Homo sapiens: one gene and its partners. The protein of the gene in region 3 purifies or fractionates together with the protein of the main gene of each other region. This does not show direct contact. Each region holds a gene or a part of one and is shown on either strand. Other genes may lie near its edges.

Region 1 (3,649 bases), on a different chromosome or scaffold from region 3:
AATAAAGGCTAGATTTTCTAGCATCGGATCATGCAACTAAGTTCTAACCAGTGACATATAAGCATACGTAGCCTCTAAAAACTTTCCTTAAGAGAAAGCTAGTTACCATTAAACAACTGGAGACAGTTGTTTAAAAAACAAAAAATTAAGTCTTGTCCTGGTCTTTATATAAATTCCACACTGTCGTAATCAGGAAGTACTCAATAAATCTTCTGCGTGCCTTTTCCGTCTCTTCTATCTCTGTGTTAGTCCTGTCCTCTGGTATTCAAAGATTTGCCTCACTAGCAATTTCTGATCACATTTGAAAGAAAAATACGCTATTTTTACACTGTACAAAAAACATCATTTTTATGCCTAATAATTCCATCATTTCTTTTACCTAGGTTCTTCATGAATATCACTGTATAAGAGAACAAAATCAGAATATCACTTTATAATAAATATTAAGTATTATATTAAAATATCACTGTATAATAGAACAAAACAGTTTTAACTTTTCTTTAAATATACCTGGAAAAGAGCCATACTGAGCTCCTGACTGTCGTCTGGCTTCTTCCTCCTTTGATACAAAAGGAAATAAATTATATAATAGAAGAAGAAATAAGTGCTGTCCATGCAACCTGTCCATGCAAGACCATGAAAAAATTGTAAAATAACCTAGTAGATGGCAATACTGAACTGAAGGATATACTTCATACCCCCTTCAAACATTTTTTCCAAACTGGATTCTCAGTGGGCATTATTCTTGGTAGTAATTTCAAGTAAAGTGTTTTACTTCTACTCTGGAAACAAGTAAACCTGGAAAACAATTTATAGTACTAATATGAAAACTCTAAATTCATCCTGGCTTTAAAACACCCATAGGGAAGGACATGGCTAGATTACCAAGACTACCATGACTTTTGTTTCCTAGGTACATCTTTTCCGTTATTCTCCCTACATAATACAAATGTAGATTTATTGATTTGTTTTTGCTGCTTTTTAAAAGAGAAAATGAACAAAAAATAAATATCCCTCATATGTAGTTTTAAAATTATTGAGGAGATATATTGCTTTTAAATATCAAGGAGATAAATTACTTTTAAAGATTATAAACTATAACCTTAAAATCAAGTATGATGCTTAATATTAAATGGACAAAAAATTAGAATGTAACATATTATATAATACAGCCTTAGGTTCTTTCATGTTCTTTCATTCAATAATGTTAGAAATAAGTAGGTGAATTATTGTAGCATCACACTATGTTGCCCAGGCTAGTCTCGAACTCCTGGGCTCAAGTGAACCTCCCACCACAGCCTCCCAAGAGCTGGGACTATAGGCACTTGCCACCTTGCCCTGCTAGAATCATTTTTAAATAGCAACACATCCACTGTTGGAAGAGAGGAGGAATCATAAATTTAATTAATCTGGCGAAGCATCCTCAAAAGATCAAACAATAATACTGTCACATTTCAATTACTTGACCTGGAAAAACAACTGATTTTATAAAAACACAAACAAGAATATAAAATGGTGAAATAAAAGCTCACTGAATAATTTAAGACTAAAAATGTCCCCCAAATTAGATACAGTGAAAGGAGACTCCCCATAAGTAATATCATTACTCTATAGAACTGTAGCCAGCATTAAATAAAAGAGCCAGGAATTAAAATTTTAGTGTCCTAATGCCTCTACATAATTTGCCGTATTTTCCTTTCATGGCTTAGCTATAGGAAATTTACCCTCTGGGCTCTCTCATGCTCTTCTCGAGCCTTCTTAACTCGTTCTATTCTTTCTTTGATCTCTCGCTCTTCACGTTTTCGCTCATACTTTCTCCGATGTTCTGCAATTTTCTGTGCCTAGAAAAAAGAGCCATAGCAAAATAAGCTTGCTCCAAAAGCTGAATAACATCAACACAAATATTCTTTGTAGAGAGATGTTTAATTCAACATGCAGTTCAGAAAAATGACAGATTTGTCTTGTACAAAAAGACCTAACACAAGCTAAGCCTTTAAGAAAACCAACCTCAACTGCATGAGGCACTGTAAAACAGAGTAAAGGGGCCTGGGATTTGAAGTTAGAAATGTTATAATCTCAAACAATTAAGCTCAAAGATTAACAAACAGGTTTCTAAGTGCATGACAATTCTTGCCTGCTAGTTTCTATCAGATACACAGTGTTTAGGTTTCAGACGGACAGCTGAATTCAGTAGGAAGAGTATTATTACGGATGTCTGCCGTGGGAAGGCAGAGACTGGGAACTCATACCCCAAGTATATGCCACAGTATATTTAAGTTTCTGTATCCATAAAATGGGAGAGGAAGAAATATTTAATATTATCAAATTGCTATAGGGATTAAGAGGGAAAAATGTAAATATGTATACCAGACACTAGTATCAAATAAATGCTCTGGATGTTATTTCCTCAGAGAATAAAATACATTTAAGAGATTCATATTCAACTGTCACTTTAGCTTGTTTACACTTTGCTGACAAAGTTACAACTTTGCCCTATTTTAAGAAGAAAACAGAAAACCAAATGAACTCTCTGGCAGTAAATAATTAAATTCAATACAATTCCCACTATCTTAAAATCTCTGAGAGTAAATTCTTGACAGCTGAACTTCCCACAAAATGAAGGATTTACCATGTAAACACATTAAAATTATTTTAACCAACAATTTTAGATAAAAATCATCCTTAAAAGCTGGAATGTTCTACTTTTGGGATTCAATATTATTATTTTTAAAAGATTGAAACTTCTTTGTTTTATTAAGACAGCCTCGCTCTGTCACCCAGGCTGGAGTGCTGTGGCGTGATCTTGGCTCACTGCAACCTTCCACCTCCCAGGTTCAAGTGATTCTCCTGCCTCAGCCTCCCGAGTAGCTGGGACTACGTAGGCGCATGCCACCACACCTGGCTAACTTTTTGTACTTTTAGTAGAGACAGGGTTTCACTACGTTGGCCAGGCTGGTCTTGAACTCCTGACCTCATGATCCACCTGCCTCGGCCTCCCAAAGTGCTGGGATTACAGGCATGAGCCACCGCGCCTGGCCGGAAAGCCTGAAACTTCTTAACTTCCACAAGGTCTTCTTGCTTTATAAAGTGGTTGTACACACCTATGATAAATAAGGACACATCAGATTCAATCCTGGGTAATGCTAATTATAGATTTTCTATTTGTTTCCTTGTTGTAAACCTGATACCCCCTTTTCTAATTTTCTGGTTATAATTCCACTGCAGGCTTCCAAACAAAGTAACAGAGTTTGCTCTAATAATGCATGAGAAATGAAAGCATGAAAACCTAATGAGATCTCCAGAGTCGAGCACAAACTTCAGCAATTACAGATTATATCTTCCAATGGTTTGTTTCTTTGCCTGTTTTTCAGATGAATTACAGCTGTCGGGGGCTAAGCACTACAGCGATGGAGTATTTAACTAATGACTTTCCCTTTCTCTACTTTGACATACCCTAGGTTGAACTTCTTTCAGCATTGCACTAGCATCTTCATCATAATCCAATTTACAGGCAAGGGCAAGATCATGGGCTGCTTCTTCCCAGTGGCCTAGAAGTCTGAAACAGATTTACACTCATTTTAGGAGCCTTTTATACATATTCACCTATGTGGCATGATATCTTTCTTCCTTACAAAAAAGGATTGTTCTA
Region 2 (4,300 bases), about 79 Mb from region 3:
TGGGTCAGCTCTACTCCCAGCTTTGGGTGACCCTGGACAAGTGCATCCCTCTCTGGGCCCTGACTCCCCACCTCCATACATCCCCTCCCCGTGAAGAAACCAGGGGGTTACACATCCCCTTTGCAACTTGTAGATTGCTCCAGGTTCCCATTTCCCAGGCTAAGATGCCGCCAGTGTGGTTGATGAGCTCTGTACTCTGTAAAACTGAGCAATTCATGGAAACCTTTCCAGGATGATCTCCATGGACTCTGGGCACCTTGGTGGTTCAACCTTAAAGCCCATGGCCTTATATCCTACAAAGCAGACAGCTTCATGACTCCATGCATCCTGGAATAAAAAATTTAAAACATCACAATAGACGTAGGTATAGGCACTCAGCCCAGACCAGGAAAGGAACCTGCAGCAGTGACAAGACCGGGGCAGAGACCAAAAACCCATGCAATTGCTGGGAGCCAGAATTCAACAGGTGAGGGAATGGGAAGGAGTCAGTGTAGAATGAAATGGGCTGAGGGCAATAACATCACCTACTTCTGGGCAGAAAAAGGACTAGAAAGGGAGCACTTTAATGAACAGAAGTACAGACGTGCTGGCAAGGATGGAAATCTCCACTGGTTCCTGGCCCCCTTCACCTCCATGCATCCCCAGCATGGGTGTTAATCATTACCCAAGCTCTCGCTGTTCCCCCTCACCCCCTGCAGAGTCCAGCAGGTCTAGATACGTGCTCTTTGAAATGTGTTCTGGGATTAAAAATGGTGCCCTGAGGCTGTCTAACCCTCACAAAAGACAGACACATGCACACACGGGCCTTGGGGAGGGCTGTGTATTAGCAGTCAGGTGGGCCCTCCTGGGAGAGCTTGCTCAAGAACTCTTCTCGGAAGGAAACCCACCTTAAGGTAGGGTTCTGATAGGCAGAGCTCCCAGAGGCACAGCCAGCTGCTAGAAGATGGGGTTATCCAGGGTTTGTAAGGTTTAAACAACGGGCAGGGAGGCAAACCGAGTCAAATGGTTTGGAAACCTACTGTGTGCAGGGCATTCTGAGGGAATCCTGAACTCTGCCTCTTTGGCATGACCAAAGCTGAAGCCAGGGACATACATACGAAGGCCCTTTGAGCTGGTGGAAGAAAGTCCTAGGCACTGATTGGACCCTTAGCTGGAAGAATGATCCATTCTTAACAACCCTGGGAGCCCCAGGGATTCTGCAGCCCCTATCCCAGCACGTGTCAATGAAACAGGCATGAACTATCCTTGGCTGTGCAGCTAGCTCAGGTACCAGTTACCCCTGTGCTTCCAACTGTATTCCAGTCCAGGGAAGAAAATTCAAGAAGGAGTTTTAAAATGTTTTTTTCTTCCTCTAAAATCAACATCTGGCTAAGCCTGTGCAGTTGGTGGCACTGAGGCACCCTCCTGGCCTCTGGCCCTGCAGACCAGGTGCAGAGGCCCCCGGGCCATTTCTGGCTGACCACCCACAAGTTATCGGCAAACAGGCAGCCGTTTCAAGGCCCTTGTCCAACCCAGCCCCACCAGAGGCCACATGCTGGAAAAGTCCCATTTTGACCATATTTTCTTGTGGAATCTGATGTCCCTGGAGGGGGCCTAAAATTTCCACGGTCATTCCCAGGGATGGGTGATGCTGTTGATGTGAAGGCCGCTGATGGCGTTCAGGAAGAGGAGGAAGGAGGCAGTGAATTCGCACCAAAACATTAGGGTGAAGCCGATGAGTGTGACTTGGTTCCTGAGGAGGATCACAAAACCCAGGAGCCCGCCGGAGGAGAGGACGAAAGACACCAGGAGGAGGATGGAACCCATGACCCACTTGCACTGTGAGTGTTTGTCCTCGCACAACTGGGACACCATGAGGAACTCCAGGCCAAAAATGGCGGCCACCACGGCCAAGGCGCCCACGCTGCGTACCAGGCCCATGCCCACGGCCAGCCCGGGCACATGGGCCTGGCCCAGGTCTCTGAAGCAGATCGTCTGGTTGGTGGTGGTGCAGAAGTGCCAGAGCCCGAAGAGGCGGTCCTCAGCCAGGAGCCAGTGCCCATCACAAATGGAGACCGAGGACAGGACCACAGCCAGGGCCACACACGTGATGATGAGGGTCCGGATGAAGGATTCAAAGAAGGACCGGCGGGGCTGCCTTTGGCCCAAAGGCCTCTGGGCCTGGAAAAAACCGTAGGAAGCACCCTGTCAGCCACAGCCCTGCCACGCCCCCAGGAACCTCTGCAGGGAAGACCCCTGAGCCCTCCATCCTGCTCCGCACTGTCTTATTCTCTGCTTGGTCTCCTGTGAAGCCCGGAACAGACCAGACCCACCGTTTGGGGGGAACCCTTCCTCCCTTCCAGACCTGTGAGCATTTACCATCCAGTATTCACCAGGCACTAAGAGCTTCCTGACCTTTCTTTCTTTTGTGATCTTCAGAGTGGGTGAGAAGTCCAAACCGACTGGCAAATCTGAGTCAGTTCTGAGTTCAGAAAACCTGTCGTGCCTGCATCCCATGACCTTGAGCATGCAGCCTGCCTCGGTTTCTTTGTACATAAAACAAGAATACGGCCTGGCAGAGTTGCCAGGGTTGTACCAAGCACTGAGACATTAGCACACCAATACACAGTTCTGTTTCCCTCCATCTCCCCAGGATACACGATTTTGTCCTAATCCCCACCCACCTGATGATTCGGGAGCTGTCCACGTTCAGCCCAGGACTCTAGATTATTGCCTCGTTTTTCTTGGTACTGAAAGTGACATTTGCATCTTGCCCTCAGACCTGTGCGGCCTGTACCCTACCCAGAGCTTGCCAACCCCATTGTCTGCTCCTGCAGCTTCTGGGCATGGGAAGGCCATTGCAGCTCTCCTCCACTTCCGGTTCAGCCCTGGAAGGAGGCGCCCCCACCCCGGTCTCCTGGCAAGCCAGGCTAGGTGTCCAGTGAGGTGTCTCATCTCACAGTTCAAGGACACCACCCGGGCACTGCACCCAAGCCCTGACCCAGAAAGCAAAAGAAAGACTTCAGGAACTCTTTACACAGCCCACAAGCCTCTCACAATCCGCTCCGCCTCCCCACCCAACCTCAGCTCCCAGCACACTCCCCTCTCCCCATGTCTAGAACTTTCTTTCCTCAGATGACTGGCCCTTAAGCCTGTAGTGGCTCTTCTGCAGCTCCTGCCACCCCTCCAGGACAACACCTCTTCTCCATTCTTCATGTCTCAGCTTAAAGTCTCCTCCACAGAGAGTGCTTTCCTGCCCACTCAACCCAGAGTCAGGCCCCTCCTGGTATTCTGTGTCAGGCACCTGTTCAAATTCTTCACCATTCTGAGGACAGTTTGTAGTTACATATTATTTCTGTCTCATTCCAACACTGTGTGCTCTGGGAAGGCCGCCCCCTACCCCCACACCACCACATTCTGTGTTTAGGCACTGCTGTGTCCCCAATACCTGGGCATTCAGTGGGTGCTCAAGGGAGAGCTGTGAGATAAGTCAAAGGTCATTGGCAACCACTGTCACTTCCGTCTGAAGCTCCTTTAAACTGAGTCTCCTGCACAGTCATACATTAAATGACCTGCTTTGCAGTGTGTCTAGAAGCTGCCCAGGTTACACCTCGGTTTGGGAGGTATGCAAAACAGGCACGCATGACGGTCACTGCTAGGACCCAGGAGAATGGAGCAGTGAGGAACATGGGGTGTGTCCTATGCCATGGGCAAATGGAGGCTTCCTGAGGCAGGTCTGGGCCACTCCTCTCTGTGTGAGACATAAAATAAAGCCCTGCTTCTGGGAGACTCCTGTGGTCAAAGAGCCCAGCAAGAGTATCTGCTCACATGCCCCAGACACAGGAGCTACCGCTAATTTCAACCCCAGGGATACAGGAATAAGGATGCAGTTTGCTTTCAGCACCTCTGCCTTAAGTAGGATCCTATTTTATTCTTAAACCTATGAGGTTGATAAAGTAGGAAGCTCCATGGTGGGTGTACAGAGAAGGAAACTATGCAGAGGGCAGGTGACTTGCCTGAGATCACTCACCTAAAGCACAATGAAGCTCTTTATGGCTGCCCAGACAATTGTATGATATGCAGGAGGTGGAATCCGTTCAGCGAATAAATACTGACTAGGGCCTTCTAAGGACAGGGCCTTTGTGCTAGGGGCTCAGTACTGAGCCCTTACAGCCCTCCCTACATGGGCTGTAAGCTCCTGGATGGGAGGGACCGCACTTGGTCTGTCCCAGCACGCTGCCTGGCCAGGATTCCAGACATGTCCCAGAACAAAGGGGAGGAATTCCCTGTGCCCCATGCCCTCTTGGTGAGGAAAAGGTGC
Region 3 (3,649 bases):
TTTGGGTTTTCCCAATTTGTACTCAGAAACGAAGTTAGAGACCTATTGTGATGTTTTAAATATTCCTTTTCTGAGTATATACCATGTGATTCAAAATAGAAGACCAATTTCTCAGCCTGTCTTAAGTCATCTGATAAACTGTGTCCCATCACTCATTTTATCATAGTCACAATGTAGTTAAAATGTGTAAATGTATAAAAGTAAAAATAAAATTCTGATGTAAATAAATTTAAGATCTCTGTGTGCAGAGCATATTGATAACTGGCACCCAAGCAAAGACTGATATCTTGAAAGGGATCTTGTATAAAAGCTATTCCATTCCTTGCATGCTATTTAATTTAAAAAATGATGCACAGACTCACATTCATAAACACACTGAACCACACACACACACACACACACACACACACATATATAATATAGAACTTACACAATTTCATCATTCTGGAATTCGAGCTCTCCACAAGTGTCCTCAAAATCCTCCCCTCCACCTCTGGCAGTCCCTTCGATGGTTTTATATGGAACGATAACATTTCCTCGAGCTCCAGATGTTCTCAATACTTTCACCTCCATGATGCCAATGCTCTCACTCACATGAGTCACAGGTTCCTCAAAAGTAAAAATGCCTGCGTGGTCATCATCAAAAATAGTTACAGTGGCAGTGGAGGGAGATCCGAGGCAAGCAAGTGTAGAAACATGATTGGCTTCCAGTATGCCATCTTCTGAAGCTTCAGAAGATACTTTGACATTGCTGAGATGCACAAGGAAATTTTCATCCTCCTCAAAGATATCATCATCTATGATACCCACTCTGATTTCCTTCTGGGTATCACCAGGCTTAAACACCACAGTTCCTTCAGTAAATTCATAATCAGACCCAGCATTTGCTGTGCCATCCTCTGTTCTGAAGTCAACAAACACAGTGTTAGTCAAATCACCACCTCTGCGGATAATGGTAAGGGCCACAGTACCACAGTTCTCCAGACACTGATATGTCCCTTGTTCAAAGAAGATCTTACTAACAGGGTCATTTTCAGTCACTTCAGTGTTGACCTCGTGCATGCTGACAGCCTTCCTTGCTTGGTCAGCTGCATGCCTCTTTAAAATGTTGCCAGCTCCAGTCATGAGGCGAGTAGCTTGAATGCGATAAAATGCTCTACTTTTTTGCTGCTGACTTAGGACTTGGTAGTTAGCTAATTCTATTAATTGCTCTATTTCTTTATCTGGATGCTTCTGCTTAAGTTCCTTCAGAATCCTAGCCATTTCTCGCCTAGCTTCTTCATCATCTTGGTCCCTCTCATCCACCTCCAGAACCAGAGCACCATCTAAGAAATTTTCAACATGAGAATTGACCACTTTCCCGTCCATTTCAATTTCAGTCTTAGAAGATGGCCTGTCTCCTTCATGTTCAATAATCATCCCCCTCTGCTTGCCAGCTCGATACCTCTTGTAGACATACTTGTAAAACAGAAGTCTCCTATCCGCTACCCAAGCGAACACAACACAGATGGGAAAGAAGAAGAAAGTAAGCAAACCTTCCCAGACCTCCACAACACCAGGAGATATGACAGACAAAATAATGTAAAGCCAGGTGTAGGCAAAGATGCTCCAGGCTGCTGTCACAAAGAAGACACGCAAATGCTTAATCTTCCTTGTCTCTCCGTCAGGCACCACATAAACACAGAGTGCAATAATGATGAACATATTGAATGCAGCACTTCCCACGATGGTGCTAGGACCGAGGTCTCCTGCAGTGAAGTTATGGCCACACACTTCAATTACTGAAAGGAGAATCTCAGGAGCAGAAGATCCCAGGGCCATCAAGGTCAGGTTAGAAACTGTTTCATTCCAGATCCTCACAGTTGTCTTGGTGGTCTCTCCATTGGGTTTCTTTATGGTTATTTCTTTTTCTTGAGATGTGATGACTTCTATAGAGGACATGAACCGATCAGCTATGATAGAGACTCCAAGAAACATGTAGACCATGGCCACAAAATACACAGTAGCTCTAGCAATTTTGTCCCCAAAAGAAGGGTCTTGGGGTTCCCAAATGGGCAAAATCACCCCTTTCTTACAGTAATATGATCCAGTACATTCACCAGTTTCATTTCCTTCTCCTTCCATTTCTGTCTCAGCAATTACATGGTCCACATGGGAAAATAAGAGACTCACAGTAACTAACAGATGAAATCCCATTGAAAAGGTGGGTGAAAGACTTAATCGCCGCATGTTGTACATGACACTTCCAACTGTCACAACCTACTGGTAAAAATAAGATGGGGGAGAGGGCAGAAAAAAAGTCATGTCATTAGAGCTGCAGCCAAAGCATTACTAATTACTTATTTTTATTACTCTTACCAAAATTTGTTTATATTTGACCATCACAAAACCGAAATTTGTTTATATTTGACCATCACAAAATCTATGGTGAATGATTGTTCTAAGACTCCATCAGTGACTAAGCAATCCTTTGTAAAGTTTACAACTCAATCTTTCTGTGAATTTACTACATGTAGTACCCATTCACTGAGCAAGATACACAATTGACTTACTGGAAAGGAAAAGTTCAATTTATATAGCCTTGCCTTATTAAACACACATTTATGCATGCTAATAGCCAAAATCACAGGACTTTTGAAGCATTAAACAATTTCCTCCTTTTTACTAAAGCAGATTTTCTTCTAAATTTGTGTTAGTACATCATCTTCCAAAAACGGTTTCAATGCCAAAAGCACCTTATTACAATTGATGCTTTGAAAATCAGACTCCGAAAAAATCCCACCAACACAAGGCCTGGTGATTATCTTAAACGCCAGAGAGCATCTTACACTGTATTTCATGAAATCATGTCCTATTGCTCCACACTTACTTGGAAACAAAACTTCAAGCTTGCCTGAAATCAAAGCTCAATGGCATTTGTTCTTGAGGAGAAAAAAATTCTGCTATAATGCAATATTTCCACACATTAAGTACAGTTTTTAAAAGCATGTTTTGATGAGAGCACATTTCTTTCTAATTTTCAGCCAGCCCAGGTCTGCTGATACATTAGCAGCTGGGCATCTGGTTCTTCAAGCACAGCTCTTCACATCTGTGTACAGAGCCTGTTTTTCTGCAGGCTGGAAAGGGAGATAAACAGGCCAAGGCCTAGTTGTGGGTAAGCGCCTGGCAGGCTGTGGAATCAGCGTCACCAACCTTAAAATGTTCCTTCTCGGTGTCGGTCATATTTTCCATGGTCATTCTAAAATACATATTAGTTCTGTCGAGGGTTCAAGTGACCAAAAAATGCAGGACCAATAATTCCATTTAAATTAGCTCATGTGGCATGACAAGAGTGACCACAAAATATACACATGATGAAGGACTGTAGGCAAGGAGGGCCATGGCAACAGAGTCAGTGAGCAGCACACAAAGCTTGGTAGGCATAGCAGTGGACTCAACCACCATGGCCTTAAGTCCACCCACCAGCTCAAGCAAAACTCTACTCAGACCTTACATCCCTTCTGCTTCCAGAACCTGGGATGGAGGTGAGGGGAAACTGAAGTAGAGGAAGGTCTGCTCCAAGTCAAGGTGACTGTCTCCCAGGCCTTGCAGGATGGACTAGTTATGACATCAGATAAAGCAGCAATAGGAAGAAGCCCTGAGTCAGAAC

Evidence for each region.
Region 1: the proteins of SLC8A1 (region 3) and ST13 fractionate together in Homo sapiens (co-fractionation; one large-scale study listed by BioGRID). This does not show direct contact.
Region 2: the proteins of SLC8A1 (region 3) and TMEM37 fractionate together in Homo sapiens (co-fractionation; one large-scale study listed by BioGRID). This does not show direct contact.

What each region holds. Positions count from the first base shown.
Region 1 is NC_000022.11:40,829,116-40,832,764, forward strand, and holds part of ST13 (hsc70-interacting protein), read right to left. Parts: intron 3,557-3,649; coding exon 3,454-3,556; intron 1,842-3,453; coding exon 1,725-1,841; intron 560-1,724; coding exon 511-559; intron 1-510. UniProt on the Homo sapiens protein: One HIP oligomer binds the ATPase domains of at least two HSC70 molecules dependent on activation of the HSC70 ATPase by HSP40. Stabilizes the ADP state of HSC70 that has a high affinity for substrate protein.
Region 2 is NC_000002.12:119,434,749-119,439,048, reverse strand, and holds the end of TMEM37 (voltage-dependent calcium channel gamma-like subunit), read right to left. Parts: intron 2,759-4,300; exon of another isoform or gene 2,664-2,758; intron 2,161-2,663; coding exon 1,609-2,160; 3' UTR 545-1,608; downstream 1-544. UniProt on the Homo sapiens protein: Thought to stabilize the calcium channel in an inactivated (closed) state. Modulates calcium current when coexpressed with CACNA1G.
Region 3 is NC_000002.12:40,428,043-40,431,691, forward strand, and holds part of SLC8A1 (sodium/calcium exchanger 1 isoform A precursor), read right to left. Parts: intron 2,263-3,649; 5' UTR 2,239-2,262; coding exon 431-2,238; intron 1-430. UniProt on the Homo sapiens protein: Mediates the exchange of one Ca(2+) ion against three to four Na(+) ions across the cell membrane, and thereby contributes to the regulation of cytoplasmic Ca(2+) levels and Ca(2+)-dependent cellular processes.